Linked DNA regions of Homo sapiens. The protein of the gene in region 1 interacts with the protein of each later gene in a pairwise test. Each region holds a gene or a part of one and is shown in the gene's direction. Other genes may lie near its edges.

Evidence for each region. Proteins that work in one complex are often made in the same cells at the same time.
Region 2: the proteins of NEBL (region 1) and KIF1B interact in binary tests that used the Homo sapiens proteins (3 or more experiments, as listed by UniProt).
Region 3: the proteins of NEBL (region 1) and ZGPAT interact in binary tests that used the Homo sapiens proteins (3 or more experiments, as listed by UniProt).
Region 4: the proteins of NEBL (region 1) and HOMER3 interact in binary tests that used the Homo sapiens proteins (3 or more experiments, as listed by UniProt).

What each region holds. Positions count from the first base shown.
Region 1 is NC_000010.11:20,779,473-20,782,311, reverse strand, and holds the end of NEBL (nebulette), read left to right. Parts: 3' UTR 1-2,339; downstream 2,340-2,839. UniProt on the Homo sapiens protein: Binds to actin and plays an important role in the assembly of the Z-disk. May functionally link sarcomeric actin to the desmin intermediate filaments in the heart muscle sarcomeres.
Region 2 is NC_000001.11:10,364,070-10,367,569, forward strand, and holds part of KIF1B (kinesin-like protein KIF1B), read left to right. Parts: intron 1-1,030; coding exon 1,031-1,176; intron 1,177-1,339; coding exon 1,340-1,579; intron 1,580-3,500. UniProt on the Homo sapiens protein: Has a plus-end-directed microtubule motor activity and functions as a motor for transport of vesicles and organelles along microtubules.
Region 3 is NC_000020.11:63,714,539-63,718,038, forward strand, and holds part of ZGPAT (zinc finger CCCH-type with G patch domain-containing protein), read left to right. Parts: intron 1-3,500. UniProt on the Homo sapiens protein: Transcription repressor that specifically binds the 5'-GGAG[GA]A[GA]A-3' consensus sequence. Represses transcription by recruiting the chromatin multiprotein complex NuRD to target promoters.
Region 4 is NC_000019.10:18,931,218-18,934,717, reverse strand, and holds part of HOMER3 (homer protein homolog 3), read left to right. Parts: intron 1-307; coding exon 308-415; intron 416-1,672; coding exon 1,673-1,794; intron 1,795-2,585; coding exon 2,586-2,742; intron 2,743-3,092; coding exon 3,093-3,209; intron 3,210-3,306; coding exon 3,307-3,393; intron 3,394-3,500. UniProt on the Homo sapiens protein: Postsynaptic density scaffolding protein. Binds and cross-links cytoplasmic regions of GRM1, GRM5, ITPR1, DNM3, RYR1, RYR2, SHANK1 and SHANK3.

The sequences.
Region 1 (2,839 bases):
TATATACAAATATAGGTGCCTTTTTGATTACTCTTGTTTGTCTAGTATGCTCTTGGAAAGAAAACCAAGCAAGCAAGTTGCTGCCTATTCTATAGTAATATTTTATTACACATGATTGATATTTTTGTGGTAGGGAAGTGGGATGCTCCTCAGATATTAAAGGTGTTAGCTGATTGTATTTTATCTCTAAAGATTTAGAACTTTAGAAAATGCCGACTTCTTCCATCTATTTCTGAAAGGTTCTTTGTGGATTTATATAGAGTTGAGCTATATAAACATTAACTTTAGATTTGGGATTTAAAATGCCTATTGTAAGATAGAATAATTGTGAGGCTGGATTCACTACACAAGATGAACTTCACTTCATAAATTAATTATACCTTAGCGATTTGCTTCTGATAATCTAAAAGTGGCTAGATTGTGGTTGTTTTGGTTAAGGTGATATGGAGGTGGGAGAGCTTTTAGTTAAGTAAGAAGCTATGTAAACTGACAAGGATGCTAAAATAAAAGTCTCTGAAGTATTCCATGCCTTTTGGACCCTTTCCTCGCAACTAACTGTCAACTGTTGATCAAAAAAGTCAAGGCATTGTATGTTGCTTCTGTGGTTATTATTCTGTGATGCTTAGACTACTTGAACCCATAAACTTGGAAGAATCTTTGAGCAAATTTTCTCAGTTGTCTGTATGACTTCAGTATATTCCTGGGAATGCCATAGGATTTTTTGTGCTTGATACATGGTATCCAGTTTGCATAGTATCACTTCTTTGTAATCCAGTTGCTGTTAAGAATGATGTACTTTAAAGGAAAAGAGAAAACTGCATCACAGTCCCATTCTCCAGTGTCCATGCAATGAATTGCTGAGCATTTAGGAAGCAGCACCAAGTCTATTACAGGCATGGTGTGAAACTTGATGTTTGACCTGTGATCAAAATTGAACCATTGTACAGTTTGGCTTCTGTTTGCTTCAAAATATGTAGAATTGTGGTTGATGATTAATTTGCGAGACTAACTTTGAGAGTGTAACAGTTTTGAAGAAAACATTGAATGTTTTGCAAATGAAGGGGCTTCACGGAATGTTACAATGTTACTAATATAATTTGGCTTTTGTTATGCAAATTGTTAACACCAGCTATTAAAATATATTTTAGTAGAAATGCTTTAATTCATATTTTTTTCCTCTACACTGTGAATCTTTAAGCCTTGGTGGACTAGAGCAACATCGTGCTGCCCAAAGGACTAACCTATGCAAACTAGTTCACATTTTAGTGGATGTCGCAGTTAATGTGTAATAAGACATTATTTCCCCTGCATAATGTACAACAGCATTGAAATGACACATTAAGCCTAGCATCACATTGTATAGTACAGTCACTCACAAACCCTTCAAGGCTACCCTAATCATTAACATTAATATTTGTTTAAAAGCAAATCACCGATTTATCTATTGAAACTACTTAAATGACGGCAAACCAGGAATGACAGATGGCTGTGTCAGCAATGGCTTTAATGTGTTCCCTGCAAGTGGTCTCCTATGATAGAACTGCGTTCTCAAATGCACTCTCTTCAGGGTCTTAATATTCTGTGTTTTCTCTCTGTATTTGTAAAACATTATAACACATTAATTTCCTATCTCTACACATTTGGTTTGCTTAAATAAATGCAGGATATAAAAAAAATGGTTCACTTCTTGGCTCTCACCGTGGTTTCTTGGAGCATGGGTTGTTAGATGCAAGCAATGCACCCTAATAATACCCCGGGTCTGAGATTTAACATGACAACTCACATCAAATCGCATCAGAGGTGTGTGCTGCCTTCAGTGCATTTACATTGGTGAATCAGTCAAGATATTTTCCTCCCCCAAATAAACTTAGTTGTAAGTGATAACAATATTATGCTTCTCCAAGCTCAGTATCTTTCTGATTTTATATCAAAGTACCGCAACAATGCATCATTGTAGTTAATTTATTTCAAGAATAAATTCCTCATATGTCCTCAATAGTACAATTCTAATTTTCTTCTATTCATAAGATGAAAGAAATGGTTTGGAGCATAGAATAGAAAGTGCACAAATTGAGTACATAAAATGGGAAGCAACTGATTTCTCAGCTAAGAAAGGCTCATTTATCACAGAACACAATTGCTTTTCTCCCCCCACTACGCTTCCCATAATTGAAAAAGTGAGTCCCTATTTTTCACACTCATATAAATCTATGCGATTTGGATGCTAGTCTTATTGTATTATTTTGTAAAACTTTCTCTTTGGCTCATAATCCTTCCTAATTGTAAATTGATAAACTTTGCGGATGACATCTGCTCGTAGAATAAACACTTCTTCCAAATATTGGATTTTCTGTTTTTCATATTCCGTAAGTATGAAATGAATATTTTAATAGTATTATGAATCAAGCACACTGTATTTGAAATCACAAGACAGCACAGTTATTTATTTGAAGAATTCACTACCTTTTTTCCCTCTGAGACTTTTTTTTTTTCCATTCGATTATAAATTTACTCTTTGTAACCCAGGCCACAGAGGAAATGAATACCTTAGATTTTTTTTTTTCTGACAAAAAATAATTTAGCTTTTAAACAGACTGTGCTTATAATTTTATTTTCTTAAACATTTGTGAGGTTTTACGGGTAACTATGACATGCGCACCAAACAACTTTTCTACCAAAATAAGTTTCTACAAAAATATATAATAAACTAAAAAGTAGGTAAAAGGGGATTTTTTTTTTTCTTCATATAATCTGCTTTGATATGGTTTGGCTGTGTTCCCACCCAAAATCTCATCTTGAATTGTAATCCCTATAATCTCCATAATCCACACGTGTCAAA
Region 2 (3,500 bases), on another chromosome or scaffold:
AAAAAATTAACAGGAAATAATAGAGGCTAAAGTTCTCTGTCATCTGTCAGCCAGTGAGCTACTGAGTGTGTGTATGTGTGTGTGTATTCCCTTCCGTCTTTTTAAAAATTTTTATTTTTAGGGACAGGATCTTTTTTTTTTTTTTTTTTTTTTGAGACAGAGTCTCGCTGTGTCACCCAGGCTGGAGTGTGGTGGCGCCATCTTGGCTCACTGCAACCTCTGCCTCCTGGGTTCAAGTGATTCTCCTGCCTCAGCCTCCTGAGTAGCTGGGTTTGCAAGCACCCACCACCATGCCCAGCTAATTTTTGTATTTTTAGTAGAGATGGGGTTTCACTATGTTGGCCAGGCTGGTCTCGAACTCCTGACCTCAGATGATAGCCCACCTCAGCCTCCCAAAGTGCTGGGATTACAGGCGTGAGCCATCACGCCCGGCCCCATAGTGTATAGACTACTACAGACTATTTAATATTTCTGCATTTTCACCTAACATCATAATTTTATCATTTTCTTAAATTGCATCCCAGTCTTCATAATTATCAAAGAATGTAAAACTCAGTTTTTAAAAACGTTCAGTTGCTTTGCTATTTAAACAAAATCCCATATATCTTCAGACCAAACTGTCTTAGTTTGCTACGTATAAGAATTATTAATTCGTGGCCAGGCGCGGTGGCTCACGCCTGTAATTCCAGCACTTTGGGAGGCTGAGGCAGGTGGATCACGAGGTCAGGAGATCGAGACCATCCTGGCTAACACAGTGAAACCCGGTCTCTACTAAAAATACAAAAAATTAGCTGGGCATGGTGGCGGGCACCTGTAGTCTCAGCTACTCGGGAGGCTGAGGCAGGAGAATGGCATGAACCCAGGAGGCGGAGCTTGCAGTGGGCTGAGATCACGCCACTGCACTCCAGCCTGGGCAACAGAGCGAGACTCCATCTCAAAAAAAAAAAAAAAAGAATTATTAATTCGTTTTGACCTAAACTTGGAATTGAATTTTTTTTCTGAAACAAAAACTTGTTTCCTCTTGTCTTAGGTATGCAGAGAAGGAGAAGAAAAATCTTAGATACGTCAGTGGCATATGTGCGGGGAGAAGAGAACTTAGCAGGCTGGCGGCCCCGTGGAGACAGCCTCATCCTTGAGCACCAGTGGGAGCTGGAGAAGCTGGAGCTCCTACATGAGGTATCCAGGGGCAGGGTTGTTCAGATGCAAGAACTCTCGGACAAGATTGCCAAAGTATCAGTCTTCCTCCCCGCTGCTGCATGTGATCATAGCTTTTCACTTTTCTCTCCTGAGGTCTTAACGAGCTTTGTGTTTGCTATAGCAGTAGTATTGATCTTCTCAGGTGGAAAAAACCCGCCACTTTTTGCTGCTGCGTGAGAGACTTGGTGACAGCATCCCCAAATCCCTGAGCGACTCGTTATCCCCCAGCCTCAGCAGTGGGACCCTCAGCACCTCCACCAGTATCTCCTCTCAGATCTCAACCACTACCTTTGAAAGCGCCATCACACCTAGCGAGAGCAGTGGCTATGATTCAGGAGACATCGAAAGCCTGGTGGACCGAGAGAAAGAGCTGGCTACCAAGGTGTGAATCCCTTCCTCTTTGCTGAACGTCTTCCCACAAGGCTCCACAAACTAGCCTCTCGGTTTATTCATTTTCAACACCTTTGTTCGAGGTGTTTGAAGGCCTGTGATAATACTGTGAATGTAGAAATAAAAAGACGCAGTTCCTACCCTCAACAAGCTTACAGGGCCAGGCACAGTGCCTGATGCCTATTATCCCACCACTTTGGGAGGCTGAAGCAAAGGGATTGCTTGAGCCCAGGAGTTAAAGACAAGCCCAGGCTAACATAGTGAGACCTTGTCTCTACAAAAACAAAAATTAGGCCAGGCATGGTGGCTCACACCTGTAATCCCAGCACTTTGCAGGGCTGAGGCAGGTGGATTACCTGAGGTCTGGAGTTCGAGACCAGCCTGGCCAACATGGTGAAACCCTGTCTCTACTAAAAATACAAAAATTAGCCAGGCGTGGTGGCGAGCGCCTGTAATCCCAGCTACTCAGGAGGCTGAGGCAGGAGAATTGCTTGAACCCAGGAGGCGGAGATTGCAGTGAGCCGAGATAGCTCCACTGTGCTCCAGCCTGAGCGACAGAGTGACACTCCATCTCAAAAAATAAAATAAAATAATAAAAAATTAAAAAATTAAAAAATATAAAGGTTGCAGAATATTAGGTCACAAGCATATAATAGAGATGTGTGTTTCAAATGCTATGGGAGTCAGAGGAGAAGTGTCTATGGTGGGGAGCTCATGAGCTGACCTTGAAAGGATGCGCAGGAGGGAGGCAGCAGTGTCGACACCTGCGTGATCAGGAGGGAGGCAGTGGTGTCCTGCGTGATCAGGAGGGAGGCAGCGGTGTCTTGCGTGATCAGGAGGGAGGCAGCGGTGTCCTGCGTGATCAGGAGGGAGGCAGTGGTGTCCTGCATGATCAGTCTTGGGGAATTCACGTGGGACTGGAACAGGAGGTGTGGAGTGAAGAATCTTGTATACTGCACTGAAGAGTTTAGAGTGGATGATGGGAGCAAGGCAGAAATATGTTAAACAGGTATTTGTGTTTTAGAAAGATTTCTGGCGAGGGGCGGTGGCTCACGCCTGTAATCCCACCACTTTGAGAGGCCGAGGCAGGTGGATCACAAGGTCAGGAGATTGAGACCATCCTGGCCAACATGGTGAAACCCCGTGTCTACTAAAAATACAAAAATTAGCCGAACGTGGTGGCGTGCGCCTGTAGTCCCAGCTACTAAGGAGGCTGAGGCAGGAGAATCGCTTGAACCCAGGTGGCGGAGGCTGCAGTGAGCCGAGATCGCGCCACTGCACTCCAGCCTGGGCAACAGAGTGAGACACCATCTCAAAAAATATATATATTTCTCTGGCAGCAATAAAGAGAATGGATTGATGGTGAAGAGATACACTGAGGAAGGGAGAATTCTTTATCTTTATTACAGTAATCTGATGAGAAATGATAAAAGCTTTTTAAAATTTTATTTTTTTTGAGATGGAGTCTCACTCCTGTCACACAGGCTGGGATGCAGTGGCATGATCTTGGCTCACTGCAACCTCCACTTCCCAGGTTCAAGCGATTCTCCTTCCTCAGCCTCCCAAGTAGCTTGGAGTACAGGCATGTGCCACCACACCTGGCTAATTTTTGTATTTTTAGTAGAGACAGAGTTTCACCATGTTGGCCAGGCTGGTCTTGAACTCCTGACCTCAGGTGATCCACCCGCCTCAGCCTCCCAAAGTGCTAGGATTACAGGTGTGTGGACGCCCAGCCAGATAAAAGTTTTTTAAAGAAGGCAGAGGTGGCTGGGTGCGGTGGCACACGCCTGTAATCCCAGCACTTTGGGAGGCTGAGGTGGGCGGATTGTGAGGTCAAGAGATCACTATGATGTTTTTATTTTTTATTTTTATCTTTATTAAATTTTTTTTTTTTTTGAGATGGAGTCTTGCTC
Region 3 (3,500 bases), on another chromosome or scaffold:
TGTTGAATATGATGTTACTTGTAGGTTTTCTGTAGATTCCCTTTATCGAGTTGAGGAAATTCTCTTATATTCATAGTGTGTTGAGTGTTTTTTATCATGAAAGGGTGTTGATTTTTTTTTTAAAGATAGGGTCTTGTTCTGTCACCCAGGCTGGAGGGCAGTGGCATGATCATGGCTCACTGCAACCTCGAATTCCTGGGCTCAGGGGATCCTCCTACTTCATCCTCCTGAGTAGGTGAGACTACAGGCATGAGCCACCATGCCCAGCTAATTTTTTAATTTTTCTGTAGAGGTAGGGTCCTGCTTTGCTGCCCAGGCTGGTCTTAAACTCCAGGGCTCAAGCAATCCTGCCTCAGCCTCCCAAAGTGCTGAGATTACAGGGGTGAGTCACTGCACTGCACCCAGCTGTGTGGGATTTTTCAAATGCTTTTTTCCTTTAGATGATCATGTGTGGTTTTTTTCCTTTCATTTTGTTAATGTGGTATATTGATTTTCGTATGTTGAACCATCCTTGAATTCCTCAGATAAAGCACGCATATTCATGGCGTATTATCTCTTTATTATTATTATTTTTGTAGAGATGAGATTTCACTCTGTTGCCCAAGCTGGTCTCAAACTCCTGGGCTAAAGTGATCCTCCTGCCTCAGCCTCCGAAAGCGCTGGGATTATAGGCATGAGCCACTTGGCCCTATCTTTTTTCTTTTTCTTTTTTTTTTTTTTTGAGACAGAGTCTCACTCTGTCGCCGGGCTGGAGTGAGTGGCGCGATCTCGGCTCACTGCAACCTCCATCTCCCGGGTTCAAGCAATTCTCCTGCCTCAGCCTCCTGAGTAGCTGGGACTACAGGTGCCCGCCACTATGCCCAGCTAATTTTTTGTGTTTTTAGTTGAGACGGTGTTTTGCCATGTTGGACAGGCTGGTCTTGCACTCCTGACCTCGTGATTCACCCACCTTGGCCTCCCGAAGTGCTGGGATTACAGGCGTGAGCCACCGCAGCGAGCCTTATCTTTTTAACAGTTAAAAGTTTAAGGCCTTATCATGTAATAACATTGCTGGATTTGATTTGCTGCTGTTTTGTTGAGAATATTTGCATCTGTATTGATAAGGGATATTGGTCTGTAGTTTTCTTTTCTTGGCATGTCTTTGTATAGCTTTGATGCCAGCATAATATTGGCCTCATAGAATGAGTTAGGAAGTATTCTTTATATTATGGGAAGAGGTAAAAAGGGATTGGTGTTAATTCTTCTTCAAATGTTTGATAGAATTCAACAGTGAAGTGATATATACAATCATATATAGAGAGAGAGAGAGAGAGAGAGAGATGGACTTTTCTTTTGTTGGAAGTTTATTGACTATTGATTCAATTTCCTTATTGAAATTGACTTTTCTTTTTGGAAGCTAAAACGTATAACTGTAGTGAAAGTTTCTGAACTTTTCTTTCATTGGAAGTTTTTTGACTACTGATTCTTTATTTGTTATAGGTCTATTCAGATTTTCTGTTTCTTCTTGAGTCAGTTTGGTCTCGCTCTGTCGCCCAGGCTGGAGTGCAGTGGTGCCATCTTGGCTCACTGCAACTTCTACCTCCCGAGTTCAAGTGATTCTCCCACCTCAGCCTCCCCAGTATCTCGGACTACAGGCGCACGCCAGCATACCTGGCTAATTTTTGTATTTTTAGTAGGAACAGCATTTCACCATGTTGGCCAGGCTGGTCTCGAACTCCTGACCTCAGGTGATCCACCCGCCTCGGCCTCACAAAGTGCTGGGACTACAGACATAAGCCACCGCGTCCAGCCTTGAGTCAGTTTAGATAGTTTGCATGCATGTTTCTAGGAATTTGTCCATTTTGTTTATGTTATCTAATCTGTTACCATACAATTGTTCATAGTATCCTTTTATAGCCCTAGTTATTTCTGTAAGATCAGTAGTAATAGCTCCACTTTCTCTCTTGGTTTTAGCAATTTGAGTCATCTCTTTTCTTCCTCTTTTTTTTTTTTTGAGATGGAGTCTCACTGTGTCACCCAGGCTGGAGTGCAGTGGCATGATCTTGGCTCACTGCAACCCCTGCCTCCCAGGTTCAAGCAATTCTGCCTTAGCCTCCTGAGTAGCTGGGATTACAGGTGTGAGCCACCACACCCAGCTAGTTTTGTTTTGTTTTTTTGTTTTTGAGACGGAGTCTGTTTCTGTCTCCCAGGCTGGAGTGCAGTGGTGCAATCTCACTCATTGCAACCTCCGACTCCCAGATTCCAGCAATTCTCCTGCCTCAGCCTCCTGAGTAGCTGGAACTATAGGCGTGCACCACCACGCCTGGCTGATTTTTATATTTTTAGTAGAGATGGGATTTCACCATGTTGGCCAGGCTGGTCTTGGACTCCCTACCTGAGGTGATCCGCCCACCTTGGCCTCCCAAAGTGCTGGGATTATAGGCATGAGCCACCATGCCCAGCCAGTTTTTGTATTTTTAGTAGAGATGGGGTTTCTCCCTGTCGGCCAGGCTGGTCTTGAAATCCTGACCTCAGGTTATCCACCAGCCTTGGCCTCCCAAAGTGCTAGGATTACAGGCATGAGCCACCACGCATGGCCTGTCTTTTCTTCTTGGTCATTTTCGCTAAAGGTTTGTCAATTTTGTTGATCTTTTTTGTTGCTGATCTCTATTGTTTTCCCATTCTGTTTCATTTATTTCCATTTTAACCTTTGTTTCCTTTTTTCTGCTGGTTTGGGTTTAATTTGCTCTTTTTTTCCCCTAATTTTTCAAGGTATACAGTTAAGTTATTGATTTGAGATCTCTTTTTTCTTTTCTTTTTTTTTTTTTTTTTTTTTTTTTGGTTGCTGTTGAGATGGAGTCTCCCTCTGTCACCCAGACTGGAGTGCAGTGGCATGATCTCAGCTCACTGCAGCCTCCGCCGCCCAGGCGATTCTCCTGCCTCAGCCTCCTGAGTAGACGTTTCCCGGCCAAGGTGTTTCTTTTTGAATGTAAGCATTTACAGCTACAGATTTCCCTCTAAACACTGCTTTCACTGCATTCCATAAGATTGTTTTTTGTTGTTGTTTTGTTGTTTGAGACACAGTCTCACTCTGTTGCCGTTTGGAGAGCAGCGATGCGATCATAGCTCTGTAGCCTTGAGCTCCTGGACTCAATCAGTCCTCCTGCCTCAGCCTCCCAAGTAGCTGGGACTACAGGTGTACACCACTGCACCTAACTAATTTCTTTTATAAGTTTTTGCAGAGGCCAGGCACAGTGGCTCACACCTGTAATCCCAGCACTTTGGGAGGCCAAGGTGGGTGGATCACCTAAGGTCAGGAGTTCGAGACCAGCCTGGCCGACAGGGAGAAACCCCATCTCTACTAAAAATACAAAAATTAGCTGGGCGTGGTGGCAGGTGCCTGTAATCCCAGCTACTCAGGAGGCTGAGGCAGGAGAATCGCTTGAACCTGGGAGGCAGAGGTTGCAGTGAGCCAGGATCACACCATTGCACTCCAGCCTGGGTAACAAAAGCAAAACTCC
Region 4 (3,500 bases), on another chromosome or scaffold:
TGAGCCGAGATCATGCCACTGTACTGCAGCCTGGGTGACAAAGTGAGACCCTTTCCTAAAAAGAGGACATGGGAATTCCTTTCCCTTTCTCAATGTGGCCCAATGTATTTAAATGCCACCTCTGTGATCTGATGCCACCTGCCCACCCACCATGGTACATCATTTTTCAAAGTTTCTCTCCTTCTTCCAAGGTGTGTGATAAGGGGATGGGTACGGTTCGAAAGTGGCGGGGCTGTCACTGAGTGATGGTGACCTGTTTGGGAGGATGGGCTGGGGTTTTACTGTCTTTTCCTCCCCACTCCCTTAGTTTGCCGAGAAGTTCCAGGAAGTGAAGGAAGCAGCCAGGCTGGCCAGGGAGAAATCTCAGGATGGCGGGGAGCTCACCAGTCCAGCCCTGGGGCTCGCCTCCCACCAGGTCAGCACTCCCTACTCCCCTATGCCTGCCTGGGCACCTGTGAGTCAGCCAGGCGCTCAACTGATATTGGGGGACCTTGATATTGGGAGACCGGGGCACTCTGCTGGTCGTCAAGACCCAATGCTTCCAGATGACCTAAGGTTAGACCCACAGCAGGGACCACAGAGGAGTGGTGTGGAGTGTGTCATAGAGGGTCTGGACCTTGCCTGGGGCCGGTGGGGTACACCCAGTAGGTCCCAGTAGCAAAACCAGCTCAGATGGCAGGATGGAAGACTAGAAATTGAAATGGCTAAGTGTGGCCGGGTGCGGTGGCTCACGCCTGTAATCCCAGCAATTTGGGAGGCTGAGGAGGGAGGATGACTTGAGGCCAAGAGTTCGAGACCAGCCTGGCCAACATGGTGATACTCCACCTCTGCTAAAAAATACAAAAATTAGCCAGGCGTGGTGGCATGCGCCTGTAGTCCCAGCTACTCGGGAGGCTGAGGCAGGAGAATCGCTTGAACCCAGGAGATGGAGGTTGCAGTGAGCCGAGATCGTGCCACTGCACTCCAGCCTGGGTGACAGAGTGTGACTCTGTCTCAAAAAAAAAAAGAAAGAAAGAAATGGCTAAGTGTGAGGCAGAACAACGAACTGTCCCTGCGTGTTTTCCCACATTAATTTATTCAGCATTATTTATTGAGCACCTGCTGTGTACCAGGCCGAGGGCTGTGCACAGGGGTTGGAGAGATGAAAAAAAGCATGAGCCTCCAGCTGCTGCCTGCACTGGGCTGCGGTGGCGCTGGCCTCTCGCAGGGCACCCGCCAGCTTGTCTACCCTCAGAGCCAGTGGTCCAGGCAGTGGGGTTGCTCACGAAACACGAATTCGGCCTGGGCAGGGCTTCCTGCTGAAATCCTAAACGTGATGTTGAAGTTCGGCCTCAGGGAAGGGAACAGCAGGGAGGTGTCCGATTGTACCCCTCCCCTACCTTACAGGTTCTAAGTATCTTGGTTTAGACTAACCTGCATCAGACTTGCTCCTGGGGGTGGTGAAAGCCCAGGAAGGCAAGGTCGAGGGCGTGGGCATGGAACTCCCAGCTTAGGGGCCACAGGGAGCCATGGAGGGTGGGTGAGGTGGGGAGGGACACACTTGGATCCTGTGCTGTGAAGGACCTGCTTAGGGTGCATAGGTCAATTGCACCCCCGATGTGACGACCCCAGTCACATCAGCCTTGATCCCAGCTGATGTGGGGTCGTGACCTATTCTTTTCCCCGTGCCTAGGTGCCCCCGAGCCCTCTCGTCAGTGCCAACGGCCCCGGCGAGGAAAAACTGTTCCGCAGCCAGAGCGCTGATGCCCCCGGCCCCACAGAGCGCGAGCGGCTAAAGAAGATGTTGTCTGAGGGGTGAGGGGCGGGACTTGGGGGCGTGGCAGGGGCGGGGGTAGGGGTGGGGGACGAGGAGGCGGTTCTTGGAAGCCAAGGGAGTGCCAGGACGGCGGGATCTAACTGTGGACTCAAGACCTGGGGAAGGGGATGAGGATCTGAATGCTGCCCCATCCAGAGCCGACCCCGCCCCTACCCTGCGTTGGCCACGCCCCTCTGTTTTGACCCCATCCCTGTCTCTTCTCGCTGCTAACCTCGCCCCGTCGATGCCTCTCTGGTCTTAGGATAACCACCCTGACCACGCCCCCATCGGCTGACTCTCCCCAACCTCCCATCCCTCCCTCAACATTCCCACAGTGTCACTGGGCGGACTCCACGTGCCCCCTTCTTTGACTCGGTCCTCGACAAGACCCCGCTTCTGCGGGACTGCCCCATCCCCAAGCTCAGCAATCAGTGTCGCCACATCCCCAGCCCTGCGTGGCCCTGACTCCGTGCCCTAGCCCAAAGCCACCCCTCCTCTGGCCCCGCCCCCTAGCCCAGCATCGCCCGTGACTCCGCCTCAGCCCAGCGCCACCCACCCTGGCCCCGCCCCCTAACCGAGCATTGCCGCTGACTCCGCCCCCAGCCCAGTGCCACTCCACCCCTGCCCCGCCCCCTAGTCCAACTTCGCGCACGACTCCGCACCCTCGCCAGCCTTCGCCCTGACCTAAGCCCAGAGCTATCCCACCCCTGGCCCCGCCCCCTAGCCCAGCATCGCCCGACTCCGCCCCCCAGCCCCGTGTCACCCACTGCCGACCCTCGTGTCTCTGCAGCTCCGTGGGCGAGGTACAGTGGGAGGCCGAGTTTTTCGCACTGCAGGACAGCAACAACAAGCTGGCAGGCGCCCTGCGAGAGGCCAACGCCGCCGCAGCCCAGTGGAGGCAGCAGCTGGAGGCTCAGCGTGCAGAGGCCGAGCGGCTGCGGCAGCGGGTGAGGGCACCCCTCCCTCCGAGAGACCCCCACCTGGCCCGGGCAACTGTGGAGACCGCGCCTCGGCAGTTCCCATCTGCCCTGGGTTCATGGACTAGCTGTGTGACCTCAGCAGGTCACTGACCCAGCCTCAGTTTCTTGCTCTGTAAAATGGGTTTGAGACAATGCCAGCCTCAGAGGGTGATCAGACACTAAAGTCCAAGCTGTGCAGAGGGGGGTGGTGGCACCAACCAAGGGAGATGGGTGCTCGGTCCTGGGCGTGGCCAGACAGGAGGCAGATTCCCTAGAGGTTGGGCGAGCAAGGGAGAGTGCAGGCGGGGGCGTCAGGGGCTGCTATTCCTGCCCTACAGGTGGCTGAGCTGGAGGCTCAGGCAGCTTCAGAGGTGACCCCCACCGGTGAGAAGGAGGGGCTGGGCCAGGGCCAGTCGCTGGAACAGCTGGAAGCTCTGGTGCAAACCAAGGACCAGGTGAGTGCCAAGTGTGGTTCCTGGGCCTCGCCTTCCCTCACCTCCTGTGGGAAAGCCAGGACCCCCGCAACAGACCCTGGGAACTCTTCTCCTCTAGGAGATTCAGACCCTGAAGAGTCAGACTGGGGGGCCCCGCGAGGCCCTGGAGGCTGCCGAGCGTGAGGAGACTCAGCAGAAGGTGCAGGTGTGTGTGGGCACAAGGAGGTGGGGTGACGGTGGGTGACAGTCACCTCAACAGACACTCAGGACAATATCTACCTAAGATGATAAAGTATTGGGAGGCCCAGTCCT